2 separate regions of the Homo sapiens genome follow, and region 1 is linked to region 2. A link means that fine-mapping ties the variant in region 2 to the expression of a gene that starts in the linked region. Tissue or cell type: whole blood. Region 2 holds a variant in brackets; the other region holds the start of a gene. All regions are shown on one strand. Distances are between the middles of the regions.

The links. PIP is the estimated chance that this variant, and not a neighbour inherited with it, causes the effect.
Region 1: it holds the start of C2CD3, and the variant in region 2 is fine-mapped to the expression of C2CD3 in whole blood (TOPMed, PIP above 0.99).

What each region holds. Positions count from the first base shown.
Region 1 is chr11:74,167,548-74,175,656 of GRCh38, reverse strand. C2CD3 (C2 domain containing 3 centriole elongation regulator) reads left to right here and starts at 4,655. Exons shown (of 33, transcript NM_001286577.2): 1 at 4,655-4,919; 2 at 7,044-7,313. The coding sequence starts at 4,865. It overlaps PPME1 (protein phosphatase methylesterase 1), which reads right to left and starts at 4,368. Exons shown (of 14, transcript NM_016147.3): 1 at 4,135-4,368. The coding sequence starts at 4,235. RefSeq lists enhancers at 3,574-4,496, 4,274-4,723, 4,497-5,420.
Region 2 is chr11:74,085,343-74,093,451 of GRCh38, reverse strand. It overlaps C2CD3 (C2 domain containing 3 centriole elongation regulator), which reads left to right. Exons shown (of 33, transcript NM_001286577.2): 19 at 864-1,036; 20 at 2,516-2,639; 21 at 7,566-7,834. Among named protein-coding and RNA genes, the nearest start is that of UCP3, 80 kb to the right of the region's middle. The variant C/G (reference allele first, on the strand shown) is at 3,125.

The DNA of each region.
Region 1 (8,109 bases), 82 kb before region 2:
GAGCCCACGAGTTTGAGGTTGTAATGCACCAAGATTATGCCTGTGAAAAGCCACTGTACTTCAGCCTGGGCAACACAGCAAGACTCTATCTCTTGCAAAAGAAAAAAAAAGGAATTTAAGAGATAATAATAGAAAAGTAGAACTTTTTTTTTTTTGAGATGGAGTTTCGCTCTTGTTGCCCTGGCTGGAGTGCAATGGCGCGATCTCGGCTCACCACAACCTCCGCCTCCCAGGTTCAAGTGATTCTCCTGCCTCAGCCTCCTGAGTAGCTGGGATTACAGGCATGTGCCACCACGCCAGCTAATTTTGTATTTTTAGGAGAGACGGTGTTTTTCTATGTTGGTCAGGCTGGTCTTGAACTCCCGACCTCAGGTGATCCACCCGCCTCGGCCTCCCAAAGTGCTGAGATTACAGGCATGAGCCACCACACCTGGCCAAAAAGTACAACTACTGATAAACCAAAAACACGTTGAATAATGAATGGCTTTAATATTTTATAGTTCCTCTAATAGTAATAGTATATACGAAAGCAGTGACTTTCAAAAGATACTTCTCTCAAGCACACCAGGGGTGCAAAGCAAATAGGGATCTCAAATCTACTTTAGTCAGAGTAGCTCTAAAAGCTTTAATAAAGAAGTTCAAAACCACTGTTTTTGGCAACATCCATTGGCATCTATTAAAAGGAAGAGTGACACCAGGATTTCAGGCCTTACCCAAGAGAAAATATTAGTGTACTGAAAAGTGAATGGATTCTAGAGACTAAACTTAGATTGAATCCTAGCTCTGCTACCTACTAGTTGGGTTACTTTTAATCTCTGGGTCTGAATGTCTTTACCCACAATGCAGGAAAATATTCACCATGCAGGTCTGTGGACACATTAAATAACATAAAGTTACCATTACAATGTCTGGCACACAGTACTTACTTTAAAAATTGCTATTATTAAATTATCCAACAATACTTTGGAATTACTAAATCTAATCTGAAAAACTGAATTATGGAAACTCATGAAAAATCACCAACTCAGAATATGCACCCTGAATATGCAAACATGCCTAAATAATGTTTAGTGAAATTGAAGGCAAGAGATCATGAAAAATAGTTAAGAGTAAGCCACACAAGAGACTATCAAGAGAACAGGACTAACTTGTGAGTAACATAGATAGAGTGGAAGAATGGAAGTTAAGAAAAAAGCAAGTAAGCATAAGGAGACATAAAGAATGCTTTGAAATTGGTGTGAGACTTCATAAATTACGACTGAAGAAAAAGACTGAATCCTAGATTATATGCAAATGAGTAAGATACACAACTCAAAATAAGTATCCCCAGATGACAATTATGACTCCAAAATACACAATGGGTCTCACAGTCAAGAGACCCAAGTCCTAGTCCTTAACGGCCCTACCGCTAAGCTTCTAGGGTACCTTAGGAATATCTGAGTCTCAGTTCCCTCATTTATTAATACATTCCCTTATAGAATACAGAACTCTCTGAATATTGGGTTCCTCAACTACATGAAGTGGTGAAATGAGACCATGTCTATGCTTTCTCTCAGCTTTATGATTCTAAGGAGAAAGAGAATCTATATTATTACTACCATGAGACTTAGATGAAGCCTGCTTATATACCAATAAAGTAGAAAAGAAAGATACGGGAAAATAAGCCATTTGAGGACCACACAAATATTCGCCAATATATGCTCTTCTCTTCACAATACTATCATAAAGAAAGGCCTTTCTAAAGAACTTTCTTTTCCAGGATAAGCAGTTAACCTAAACCAAGAAGACCAAAGCATCTTTTTAAAAAGGTAAGTTGTCCAGGCACAGTAGCTCACTCCTATAATCCCAGTACTTTGGGAAGCCAAGTGGGGCAGATCACTTAAGGCCAGGAGTTTAAGACCAGCCTGGCCAACATGGCGAAATCCCCTCTCTACTAAAAATACAAAAATTAGCCGGGCGTGGTGGTGCATGCCTGTAATCCCAGCTACTTGGGAGGCTGAGGCACAAGAATCACTTGAGCCCGGGAGGTGGAAGTTGCAGTGAGCCGAGATTGTGCCACTGCACTCTAGCCTGGGCAACAGAGTGAGACTCTGTCTCTAAAAAAAAATAAAATGAAAAGTAATAAAAAATAAAAACGATAAATTACTAACAATTATACAATCTTCTAATCAGCAGATTTTCCTTTTTTTTTCTCTCAGTATCTTCATTCAGTTCTTCAATCTTCAGAGAACTTGTTTCTCCAAGATGAGAAGCTGAGCTCTAATTAAGCTTATCTAAGGAATGTATAATTATTAAAAATCTGATTTTCTTATGTATTTGTATAGAAGGGTGCTGGTATACTGAAAAATCAAATTTATTTTAAGAAAGGCAGCAACTAAGATATTTAACAACAATTAATGTTACATTAATATTAAACTCCAGGTTAGTTTTCCCAAATAATGTTATGGGTCAGTTTCCAAATTCTCTTTATTCATGTTATAGTCCAACTTTTCTGTCTTCCAAAGCCAAAACAATCTTCACTTTACCTTCTATGTAGCCTTCTACCTCTATTGTGCGTCTATCTCTCTATCTCCTCCTGCTAAAGTTTTCTCATTTTTCTACTGCGTATCATAGCAGGTCTCCACTCAATTCTTAGTTTCCTTCCCTGGTTTTTCCACCCATTTTTCCCATTCCTTTACCCCACTGTTTTATAGGATTCTCCTTTCTTTTCATCCCTAGGACTTACTGTCACAGTACTGCATCTCCTACTCTCGCCTCCTTTTTGATAAGTTTTTACACATATTACTTCTTCAGAACCTAAGGTTTCTCTTCTGTAGTCCTTTTTCAAAGAATATCTACCAATTCATCTCTAGAATCCCAAATATACTCTGGAGCCCTCATACCTAAGTATCTTTCCTACTCCTTTTCTCTTTACAGTCACTAATTCCCAGAATCCTGTTTGAAACTACAAATATCCCCTCAAAACCAAATGCCTATTCAATTCTCTCCACTTTCCAGCAATTACTTCTCCCATGTTCACCTCATTCTTTCTCCTCGGCCCAAGTATCCCCTAACCTGGCACAAGCCATTTAACGATCTAAAATTCCAAAACCTATCTCTTCTACATGGCTCTCCTTCCTTTCCAGCAAACTATTTCTCGAACTCCCAATGCTTCACTAATTCAAAGTCTTAGGCCAGTACGTCGCTTCCCTCAGATCTACTAGCCCAGCAAAAACTGATTGCCCAAATCTTCCTCTAAGCTTCCCAGACCTTACAACTGCAGCACTTCCATTCACCAAACCGTATTTATAGTCATCTCTCAATCTTTAGAGCCTATGGTCACTCTGTAAATTCTTCAGTTCTCTCCTTCTTCTCTCTCCCTTATCCTGTCCAGCTTCTCACTCTGTAAATTCTTCAGTCCTCTCCTTCTTCTCTCTCCCTTATCCTGTCCAGCTTCTCAGCACATTCCTACTACCCTTAACAATCTTCGTGGCTATGTTCTCCACCTTACCTTAGGCCTACTCCCTAAACTTTCTCATTCTCCCTTAAGAGACCTAATCTCACCTCTCATTCGCTGAATCTGTCTTTACACCTCTGGGAATTCTCTAGAATCGTCTGCTTCCTAGTTCTCCTCTTTCCTTCTCCAGCCCTGTCTCGAGTGTTTTCTACCCCCCTCAGCTTTTCTAGTATCTAGTTCTCACAGTGCAGATATTAGAACTCTGATAATATCTACTCCTCCCAAACCTTTCCTTAGTTGTTGGCCCAATTCCCCTCAACTTTTCTCTCAGTCATTCCCCACTTCCCTCCACCTTCCCTGGCCGATTCTCCTCCACCTTTGTCACCGTTCTACTCCCTTTTCTAAGCCTCCTTTATTGTGGAAGTGATTCTCAGATCCCTTATGTTAGTCTCTCAGCTTCCCCAACCTTTGCCTCATTCCCCTCTCCCTTCAACAACGTTATTTTTCCTCCAATTTCTATTGACTTGGCGCCTCCCCTAGTACCCCAATCTGCCTTCTACTCCATCTAAATATCTCCAGGCCGCCAACATTTTCTCCTATCAGTAGACTCCTTTCCCGTGCCTCTATGAACGCCCAGAGATACCATTCTCCAACGGCTGGGGCCTGGCCCATAGGGAGAAGGGGTATGGGTCACGTACCCCATTCGCATCTTGGCTCCGCTCTGACTGCCCCCGCTGCCGGGTAGAGGTGGGCGAGAGGGAAGGCGGCCGAGGTGCATGCTCTTTTCGAGGGCCGACATCGAGGGGAGGCTGCACGCACGTAGTCAAACAGTAGGCGAAGCTTCGTCCCACGTTGAGTGTGGCCCAACCGGTCACGACTCGCTCCCCTAACGACGCCCTGTCGCCTTTGGACAGCACCCAGCTACCCGTAGCACCGCCTACCGCCCACCGGCTCCGTAAACTCCACCCACTCGCTTCAGCGCTTCCACCGGAAGTGCGCAACAGCACTCATACAAAGGAAGCTGGGTAACAGAGTATGAGAACTCCGCAGACTCCCGGCTGGGAACCCGACGACTTTCACCGGAAGGAGGAGCGCTCTTCAGGGCAATGCACCCTGCGCAATGGAGTCCACAAAGGGCGCATCCCTATGCGCTTGCGCAGCTGGAGGCGCCCCCCAGCCAACCCCGGAGAGGTATTGTAGCAAAGCGTCCTGGGTATTGTAGTGTATTGGAGGGAAGGCGTCTTGGCGCCTTCTCTTCGCACCGTTTTCCGGAGACTGTTAGAGGAAGAGTCGCTTTTTCCTGCCTCCCAGGCTGCCCAGCGGCGCCGGTTGCCGGGGAACGCAGGCGCCGTGGGGAGGGATGGCGGGAGGATACTGCTTAGGTGCTGGAGACGGAGTTGAGCTGGTGAAGAAGAGCTCGGGCTCATCATGAAACAACGAAAAGGCCAAGGGTCTGGGGGCAGCCGTGGGCGCAAAAAAAGAGGTAACCTGAGCGATCAAAGATTGAGGAAAGCGTAATAGGAGAGCAGGGTGTAAGGAATTTTAGGGAGACCCGCACCCCCGCTGGATAAACAAGAAAAGGGACGTAAGAAGGAAGTAGCCAGGGAACCAGAAGGTTAAAAGGAAGGGCAATTGGCCCTCCAGAGAATAGAAAGGAATTAGGGGCTGGGGTAGGGGCCACAGACAGGCGATTAATGAGATGAAGGTTACCGGTAGGATGACTGTAGAGGAGAAGAACAAACAATGATGGGATTGGTTTTGATAACGAAGTGAAATGTATGTGTGTGTGTAGCTTTCGAGGTCCACAGGGACAGGAAGAAACATAAATTGGCAAAGGGATTATATCATTTGTTGTGTGATTGTGGGCAAGAATCACGTTTTATACATTACTGAATGACCAAGGATTAGTACAAAGCAGGACTCGGTAAATGTTAGTTGAATGAATGAAGTATGAAGGGCTGACTATGAGCAGGAGTTGGGAAAAATAATTGTAGAGTATAGAGCCGGGAAGAGTGGGGAATGACAGGTGTGATAGGATTGGAGTGGGGGTAAGGGCATGACGATCTCCTGAAGGACCTGAGATCATGAAAGAGTGTGCAGCAGAGAGTCCTCATCAGGTTAGCAGCTCAAGGAGACACAAGCTCACCGAGTAGGGGATGTTAGCTGCAGTGAGAACAGTCAACCTAGGAACCCAGGGCAGATCAGGAAACTTGACATTGAATCTCTACAAGACTGCCTCGAAGGGAAAAAGGACAGTGGGTGACCCTGCCTTTTTGCATTGTAGGCAGTTTAGCGAGAAAAGAAGTATTGGGAACAGTGATAGGACATTAGGCCATTGGGTTGAGGACTGAAGCTACAATCTGGGAATTACTCTTATCCAAGCTGTTTAAAGATTACTAAGGCAGTTTTGAGATACTGACTTTCCTGCCAGGAAAGATAGGAGGATCTGAGACTGAAGCATACTAGTGCTCCCTGTGTCAAAACAGTTAAGCATGTTTGGTTGATAATCGGAAAGTCAAAGTAGAAATAATATAACATAGCATAGAACAGAATACACTTTTTGCTATACCATTTCCATATGTAGAAATGTATACACAACTGTGTATAATTTTTATGTTGAAACTATCCATAAGGATTATGGTGGGTCTTTTCTCCACTATAGAGGGCAGAGGCGGTGTTTGCATTAGAAGTCCAAATAATTAGTCCTGATCTGATACATTCCATATATTTTCTTCTTTGAGGCATAACCACTCCTCAAAGAAAAGTCAAAGGAAAAAAAAGGTATAAATAATATAGGAATGGTTTCTTAAATCTCCTTTAAGTTTTCCCGAAAAGGTACTATGAATGAAAGACAATCAGGGTCATTAAAGGAAAATTTTTTAGAAAGTCATGATTAATTGCTTTGTTTACACTTTAATGTCTTTATGAAACCCAATAAATACTAAAGCCAATAAATATATGAACCCAGCACTGTGTTAAAAATAGTGGCAGAATCTGAAGATTAGATAGTCTGTGTCCTCACTGACTGTGTGATCTTGGCAGGAAAGAAAAGTTACAATTTAAGACGTTCTTCATTGAAATGCTGAGTTGTATGATATAGTCTAAATCGTTTGTGAGTGAAGGGAGTTGTTGCTGTTTTATCGTTAGTGATTTTTTTAAAAGAGAGTTAGATAAAGATTACATATCTTAAAAACCATAGATGTTGCAATAATTAAAACAACTGTACTTAGAAAAATTTCAACCATACTTAGAAAAATGTCAACTACTTCTGATATTTGTATTTTTCAAATAGTAACTCAACTAAAGAAAAGTTTATATTAGTGTGTCTTTGTTGGTATGTTCTTAACTTAGAGTAAATCAAATCAAACCTTAAATACTAATTAGTTATCAGAGTGGCTTACATGACCAGATAGATTATTCGGTGGTCTGATTTGATAGTTACTTCTCATGTATTAGAATAATGGGTAGGATAAACCTTCTTTCTAAGTGGTGATAAATTGCTGAACTTAAGACTAAAGTGTTCTGTTTGTTTTCATTCAAAAAGCATATTATATGTTTTCTATATTTAGTCTAAATTTTGACTCAGTTTTCTTGGATTCCTCTACAGGTTTAAGTGACATTTCTCCATCTACAAGCCTGCCACCTCTGGTTGAAGGCCAGCTACGCTGTTTTCTAAAACTTACTGTTAATAGAGTCATATGGAAGATTGCAAAGCCTCCCACTTGTGTACTTGTCCGAGTGAGATGGTGGGGAGAAACATCAGATGGAACCCTCTTTTGTCCCAGGGATGCATTGCAGACTGAACCAAAAGCTGTGAGAACAACTACACGTTACGCTATTCGTTGTGGTCCAAAACAGTTTACCTCTTATCTAACAGGTATGTTATTGTTTTATCATTGCACCTGCAGACGTAATACAAAGCATGTGGTTATATTGTCAGCAATAAGTGTTGTTGTGTACCTAGCATATATGGGCATTCTTAATTATTGAAGAGTCAAAGAGTTTTTATAGTAGACATTTTTCTTTGTAAATTTATTGAGTGTTACTGTGTGCCAGCAGTTTTGAAATGTATTACTTCTAATCCTTACAATAACCCTGAAAGATAGGTATTTTCTCTGTTTTATAGACAATTAAACAAGTTGGAGAGATGAAATGAATACTTTCTAAGGTCACAAAGTTGATAAATGGCTGAATTAGGATTTGAACCCACTTCTGTCTGTCACCAAAACTCATGCTCTTTTCACTACACCATGCTTTTTTAGGTAATAACTGTAGTCTCAACTCTGGGGTTTACATTATACTCAAGGAAAGAGGATATAGATGTAAAATTTACCAATAGTACAAGATAATACATACTAAATGCTAAATGAATGGTTTAGTGAGTTAGTATTACAGATGTTCAGAAATGGAAAGCATCCCTCTGTAGGGAACCAGAAGCCAAGATGTCTTCATTTTTGTACAAGAAAAGTATTCTGAGTGTACTATGTTACTTCTTTATTCAGGTCAAGCTTTCACATAAATACATTTTGGATGATGGGGTTATTTATCAAGTCAATTCAGTTCAAGTCAATAAAATTCGAGCATTTATCATGTAAACATGGTTGGGCTCAGAATATTGGAGAGCCAGGGGTGAGTTAAGATTAACTTGTCCTTGAGTAACTTACATTCTCTCG
Region 2 (8,109 bases):
CTGGCCTCCTACTTATAAACTCATTTCTTGTAACCTGTTCTTCCCACCACCAGAGGAACATTTATATTTATTTTATAAATATAATTTAATAATATAATTTATATATAACAAATATATAAATTATTATATTTGATTTATATTATAAAATATAAATCCACTCAATGTTACAGACATTGGAAGATTTCCAGGAAAATACTGGCATAAATACGGATGTTCAACCCACCCCTTTACATCTGCACCACCGACAAACCAACTAAAGTGCTTAAGAGAGTATAAATATAAGAGGAAAGGAAACAGCATCAGGAACAGAACTAGGGATGAGTACCATCCACATGCGAGAACACTTTCCTAAATACAATTAATTGTCAGTCAAGTACAAAAAAGATTTTTAAAACCACCTAGGTTTGAGTTACAACTTTGCAATCTAAGAATGGATTGTTTTGACATAAGAAGGAAATAGAGTAGGTACTGACAGATCCTCATTACCCTGGTAAATTAGAGGGGCTTCAGCATGAAGATGAGAGTAAGCCATGAAAGATATTGGGCCTACTCCACTTTGAACCACTTTTGCTGCTGCAAGATGGAAGCTTTCAGGAGTGGCCACCCCCGACAGGTTCAAGGCATGTACAGTTACCGCACAGAAAACTTGAGGGAAGCTAGGCTTTGTCCTGAACTCGGTATAATTTATGGAGTTCCTCCTCCACATAATGAGTGGTAAATTTAGCCAGACACCATAGCTGCGTACTACCAACACAGAACAATCAGGCACCAAAGATAACCAGGTAGTGAAGGCTGATCTGTGGGGCAGACTGAATCATTTATCACCTAATTCTTCTGACAACGTGTGCTTTTGTGGTTTACAGATACTATTATCCTAATGTGAGAGACCAGAAGGTCGCCAAAGGAACCTTGCCATTATCAAGGATCTGTGCTATGGTAACCACCCAGCATCGTGAGGATGTGGGAATACAGACCTTTAATCTCCCTTTAACCCCCAGGATTGAGAACAGGAAAGAATTGAGGAACCAGTCATCAGGTAATTGAAAACAAGTTTGTCTTTTTCTTTCAAAATCAGTATACATAAAAATATATAAAATAGCCGGGTGCGGTGGTTCACACCTCTAATCCCAGCACTTTGGGAAGCCAAGGCGGGTGGATCACCTGAGGTCAGGAGTTCGAGACCAGCCTGACCAACATGGAGAAACCCCGTCTCTACCAAAAATACAAAAAAATTAGCCAGGCATGGTGGCCCATGCTTGTAATCCCAGCTACTTGGGAGGCTGAGGCAGAAGAATTGCTTGAACCCAGGAGGCAGAGGTTGCAGTGAGCCAAGATCAAGCCATTGTACTCCAGCCTGGGCAACAAAAGCGAAACTCGTCTCAAAAAAAAAATATATATATATATACACACACACACACATATATATATATAAAATATACAGTATACATAAACATCCCTTTTCTCTCTAAATTAGTGATTCTCCACATTTTGAGGGATTTGCCCTTTTGAGGATCTGATGAAAACTGTAAGACACCTTGTCTTGGAAAAAATGAGTATAGAATATACACTGCCAATTTTGTATACAATTCTAGAAAACTCATAGCTCCATGGAGTCTATGTAAATGTTGCTTGTCTCATTTCACCTTTAACTTCAGCAAGCATTTTATAAGCCCTCATGCCATAAATTCTAAGCATTATATGGTACACTCAGAGAATTGTTATTCCAAGCCAACATGAGCAGATAGGGGATTGGTAGAAGATAGCATGAACCAGGAATTCACTGTAAGGGAGGAGAAGGCTAGGGTTTAAAGTTAGGAGAGGATTAATTCGAATTTGGAGATTTGAATGATATTACATCCTAATGCTTCCAGCAGGATGGTGTACCCTCTAAATTTATCATCAGATAACGAAGTTTAGCCTCCTATATCAAGTTGCTGTACATGCTTGCTAAAGAGTATCTGCCAAAACAATAGGTTTTATGTCACCATAATTAAGATTGAGTTGTTTCTCCTGACCCTCCCTGATCAGCTTATTCTGTTATTCCATAAAGCTGTCCCTGAAATGTGACAGTAGGATGATAGAGGTTTTATAAAAAGGTAGCATGAGAAGGATATTTCAGGTGGTGATGGTAGGAGGGTGATAGAAGTATGTGAGGTGTGGAAACCGTTTGAAAGTTTAAAAAGAAAATGGCTAGAGCCCATCTCAATTCTATAAACATAATTGGGGGTAAAAAGAAATCTGGAGTTAAGTTCTGCCTTCAGTAGTTGTGTAATCTTGGCAAGGAATTAAATCTCTGAACCATAATTTCTTGAATGTAAAGTAAATTAGTAACCTGTTAAACCTTTATTAACCTTAAAGAATAACAATGTGATTATGACAAGGACAGATTCTCTCATTGCCCTTATTGTTCGTTGTAGTGTTAATCCTCTTCCATCCTTCCTGACCAAAACTTTGTGGTTTGGTGGAACAGAGATTCTTCTGACCAACCTTCTTTCCTTGTGTCCTCATTCTTCAGGTTTACTGGATGTGGGCCTAAGGTACAGGCGTAGTCCAAGAACAGCAGAGGGAGTTCTTGCTGCCCGAACTGTTTCCATCTCAGTCCAGATTATCAGAGCCTGTGGTCTGCAAGCAGCAGCCAAGTAAGTCCACCTGAGACAAGCAATTCTCAAGCCTTTTACACTGCAATCATTGTAAAATAATGCTCAGATATGCAAAACTTTCTTAGGTATAATTTCCAGTTCACTAACCACAACTCCTCTTTTTCTGTTAATAAAGCATTTCAGAATATGAGTAAATCACTTGCAAACGTTGCTATTTTAACTGTTAGCAACTTACCTCCTTGACCTTGCCCAACAATTTTATCCTGTGCCTTTCTTAACAACTTAGTCTTATGGCCATACCCTACACCATCAAACCATGCCATACCCAATCACTGCAACTCCTGTGTAATCTCACTTCATTCCTTTCAGTCTCTGAGTACTACCTCCTATTTTTCCAGCTTGCACCCCTTTAGTCTGTTCTCAACATAGTAGCCAGTGAACCTATGAACACTTAAGTCTAGCTTTGTCGCCCAGGCTAGAGTGCAGTGGCGGGATCCTCATTACTGTGTTGGTCAGGCTGATCT[C/G]GAACTCCTGACCTCAAGTGATCCACCCGCCTCAGCCTCCCAAAGTGCTGGGATTACAGGCGTGAGCCAGTGCACCTGGCCTATGTTTGATCTTATTCAGAGTAAAAACCAGAGCCCTTAAAATGGCTATGAGACCCCATATGATCTAAACCACGTGCCCCACCCCCCATCTATCTTTGTGATCTCATCTCCTGCTAGTCTGCCCTCTGCTTACTCCACTCCAGCCACAACCCCCATGTTGCTTCTGAACACACCAAGCATATTTTCCTCTCAAGGCCTTTGTCTTGCTGTTTTCTCTGCCTGGAACACTATTTCTCTAGAAAAACAGCACAGCCCTTTCCCTTACCTCCTTCAGGTCTTCACTCATACTTCTCTCTGCCTTGAATATTCTTCTTCCTTTTGTCTACTTAACAAACTCCTATTTTCCTTCAAGACTTTGCAACATCTTTACAGTCTCTCTTTATTTCTTTGTACGTGTAGGCAGAGTTGGTGGTTTTTCCTTTGTTAACACCTTGGTTGTAGCACATATTCTGTTTCAATTATTGGCATACATGCATTTTTCTCCCACTAGGCTGTGAGTTCCTCTAGTCAGAGATACTGCCTGAGCTCCTCTCCATCCTTCTAACCTCCTAGCATAGTTCTAGCATATAACAGGCACCCAGTAAGAAAGAGAACTAGATCAGGCTCCTGCTTCAGACTGACACCCTTTGAACAAAGAAACAGACAAGTGCTCCCTAACTTTTTCCCTGTTGTAGCTGAGGGTCAAACTGTTCACCTATAACTTTATGGTCTCCAAATAAGAAATTGCATTATTGTGTGAGATCTGATGCTGAAGAGCTAAGATACTCAGTGTAGTTAATATTGTTCCTCACTAAATTCTCCACGTAGACTCTTTCAGTTACTGCCCAAGAACATCTTAGTGTTAGTGAAGGTGATGTCAAGACAGGTTGGTTTTGGGTTTTGTTTTTATGTTTGTTTTGGTTTTTGGTGTGTTTCGTTTGTTTGTTTGTTTAATTTCAACTTTTTATTTTAGATACAGGGGTACATGTGCAGATTTGTTATATGGGTATGTCGCATGATGCTAAGGTTTAGGGTACAGATCCCATCACTGAGACAGTAAAGCAGTTTTATAATCATACCACTTCCTTACATTAAAACTTGATGATTTCCCATTGTTGATAGCAGTGATCTCATAATTTTAATTATGCATTCCTATTAATAAAAAAGGTAGCATACCCTTTAAATATGTACATATTTACTCATGTATAAATCATCTTCATGTACTGCTATACTCATATACAAAATATATTCTAAGATATACCATGGAATAGAAAAACTTTAATATATGAGATAACCAATATAGTTTATCCTATGAACCTCCTAAGTTGTATACAGCCTTCTTTAGGGATCATTGGTCCATATAATAAGGTCCAACTTCCTTAGCTTGGCATTCAAGCCCCTTCAAAATAAATCTGAGTCTTAAAAGAAGAATAGTAGTTATCAAGATACCCAAAAGGGGTGAAAATTATTTTGGTGAAAGAGAAGAACATGTGCAAAGGCAGGGAGGCATGAAACTTGTGTTTTTGGAGTACCTCCTCAGTCTCAGATCCAGCCAACATCAGAATTCTTCAATATGGCATTAAATTAACTAGCATTTAATTGGCAGAGAAGGACTCAGAATTTAGATACTCAGTAGATCTCAGAGAGGGCAGATAACAAGTCGGAAACTCAGTAGTTGCTCTGTCTGAGGACTCATGAGGAAAGTCAGATTGGATGACAGGCAGTTTGTTCTAAATCTCCCATTTGGTCTGTGTCATATATTCAAGGAGGGAGAACAAGAAGCCAGGCCAGTTCTGACACAACACTCTTCTGGTAGGTTGGGAGAGGTTCACAGGATGTGAGACAATGCATGGTATAATGGACACAGAACTGTTCTAGAAATCAGACACTATAGCTTCTAGTCTCACCCCCATCTCCTACTAGCTGTGTATGATTTGGGGCTGATTTCTTTACTTCCATGAGCTTCGGTTTCTTCATCTGAAATGGAAATTTTAAATACCTACCCTGATTTTGTAGGGATCAGTGTAAAAATTAACAAATATGAAGTCATTTTATAAACTACAAACTATTGTACAAATATACAGATTTTTATGATTACTTCCACTTGTATAGATAATTGTGACCTCTATTTGCCAGTAAAATCAGAGAAGTAAATTTTGCATTGCCTCTTACTGAAAAGAATTCTTGATGTTCTAAACTTACCCCTCTTGAATCCTTACGCTGGCATCTAGATAGCAGGTGCTGTAAATTAGTCTTCTCTCATCAAGAAACACCAGCCTCCATCTTACCTGCCAGTGGTCTTCCTGAAAATACATTGTTGGTGCCTATGTAAAGTAGGCACTTCTTACTGACTTGCTTCTTCTAACTCACCTGATCTTTAACTCAGAGTGAATAGAACCTTTCTTGGACATAGCCAGTAGTCTTTAAATGCCGTGAAGCTAAGGAATTGAGGCTACTTCACTACTATATATCCAGCTGAGCCCAAGGCATGACACACAGAGCAGATACCCAGCAAATAACGACTGAATGAGTGAATTCAAACCAGCTTGGGGCCCAAGCCTTTCTGCCATCTCACTGCCATCTCTGAAAGTTCCCTATTAAGAGTCCTTCACTGTCCATATGCAAGTTCTTTCTTTTGTATATATTATCTAATGTTATCTTTACAACACCCTATGAGTATTTTATCCTCATTTTTTTTTTTTCGAGATGGAGTTTCACTCTTGTCGCCCTGGCTAGAGTGCACTGGTGCGATCTCAGCTCACTGCAACCTCCGCCTCCTGGGTTCAAGCGATTCTCCTGACTCAGCCTCTGAGTAGCTGGGATTACAGGTGCCCGCCACCACGCCCGGCTAAGTTTTTGTATTTTTAGTAGAGATGGGGTTTCGTCATGTTGGGCAGGCTGGTCTCAAACTCTTGACCTCAGGTGATCCGTCCACCTCAGCCTCCCAAAGTGCTGGGATTACAGGCGCGAGCCACCGCACCCAGCCTATCCTCATTTTTTAAGCTACTGCTAGCATTCAATTTATTTTCACCCCATTTTTCCTAGGCATAATATATACTTCATGGTATACTATTGTATGGATGCACATTAATCTTCTGTTAATGATAAATCATCTATTAATGATCATTAACGATAATGAAAAGGAAAAAGTTTTTCTTTTTTTCTTAGAAATGAAATTGCAGTAAGCATCCAAATATATAATATACATCTTTAGTATTTATATACTATCTTATGTTAACCTCATCTTAGTGAAGAGGAAACTGAGACTTAAAGGAGGTTGAATAACTTATCCAGAGTCACATGGTAAGTAAATGGTGGAGCCAGCATTCAAACCCAGATCTGTATAACTCCAAATTACTACTCTCTATGAAGTACAGTAAGGTTTTAACAGGAAGGAACCCAGAAGTCTACTTTAGGGATATCAAGAAATGCTTCAAAAATAGGTGATTTCTTTGCCTAGATGTCAACTCTATCGCCTTGGGGAGTTTAGGGAAAGGGGGTTTGTCCCATACTGTAGCTACACCCAAATGACTTGACTACTCTTTATGAGTGTCGTTAAAGGCGTGTAGATTCCATTTATACATCATGGAACATCTGTGCTGAGAAAGATAAAAGCAGCCCCAGACTTCTGGGAATTGGGCCAAAATTCATAGGTAGGCTTTGGTGTTTTCTTGTTGACCATAAGTAATCTTACAGAACATCAGCATCAGACAAGATCACTGTATGACTATGATGAAGTGAGACAAAAACAAGACAGCTCCATCATCATGTCTAAGCACAGACCAAAACGAGGTCACTTATGCAAACCATAGAAACAGCCAACATCCTCCTGTCTGGCTAAAATGAGTGACAGCTGCTGCTTCACCAGTTATAGCTTTAGCTTTACTCTAGTATTCCCTCCGTCTAGATAAGATTCTTTAAGAAAATCAATCCAGAGCAAAGCCCTGCTCCTTTAAGCCCTCACTCAAGTCAGCTAACACAAGTCCAATGCTGATAAGCCCTTTCTGATACTTCTCACTGAGATGTACTATGGTTCCCCATGGTGTATATTTTCCTTAATTGCAATGAGCAGTAAACCCAGCTTGTTCAACTAGAGTTGGTTCCTGTGGTCCTTGACTTAAGAGCATTGACAGGACAGTGGGTCATCCTCAGAGTCACTCTGATGGGCAGATGTTATCCCCTCCACTCCCATATACATATGCCATGATATCTAGATTACTAAGAAAGCCCATTGTGGCACTGCCAAAAGCCTAGATAGAAAGCATATAGTTGGTTTTATTCTTGGTGGTCTCATAGAAGTAATGAAGTTATTTTCTAGAAAATCAAGCTGATTTCTAATGTTACCATGGTATCTTCTCATTTCCACCCTTCTCCTCTACAGGGCTTTGGCTGAACGGGAACCCGCTCTACAGTTTAGTGCCACAGTCGGGGTCAATGCCTCTGTCACCACTCATCTCTCCTTCCTGCCCCAGGGAGAACAGCGCCGAACCCACCCTGTGGCCTGTTCTTTCTGCCCTGAGTTCTCCCATCACGTTGAGTTCACATGTAACTTGGTGACTCAGCACTGTAGTGGAGAGGCCTGTTTCCTAGCAGAGTTGTTGGAGTTTGCAGAAGTTATTTTTGCTGTCTATCATGAAAATACCAAGTCAGGTGAGCACCATATGACTTGTCACAATCAAAATTAAAAGAGGCTGCATTGTGAATAGTATAGCCCTTCCTAGGAGATACATACTGCAGTATTTAAAGGTGAGGAGTCATAATCTCTGCAACTTATTTCTGAAAGATATAGCAAAAAATAAGGATATGTACTAAGTATGTAAGAGAAAGATAGTGTAGAGAGAAATAAAGCAAATGTGTCAGTGTTAATGGGTGTATCGAGATGAAGGGTGTGTAGGAGTTCATTATTATATTTTTGCAACTTTTCT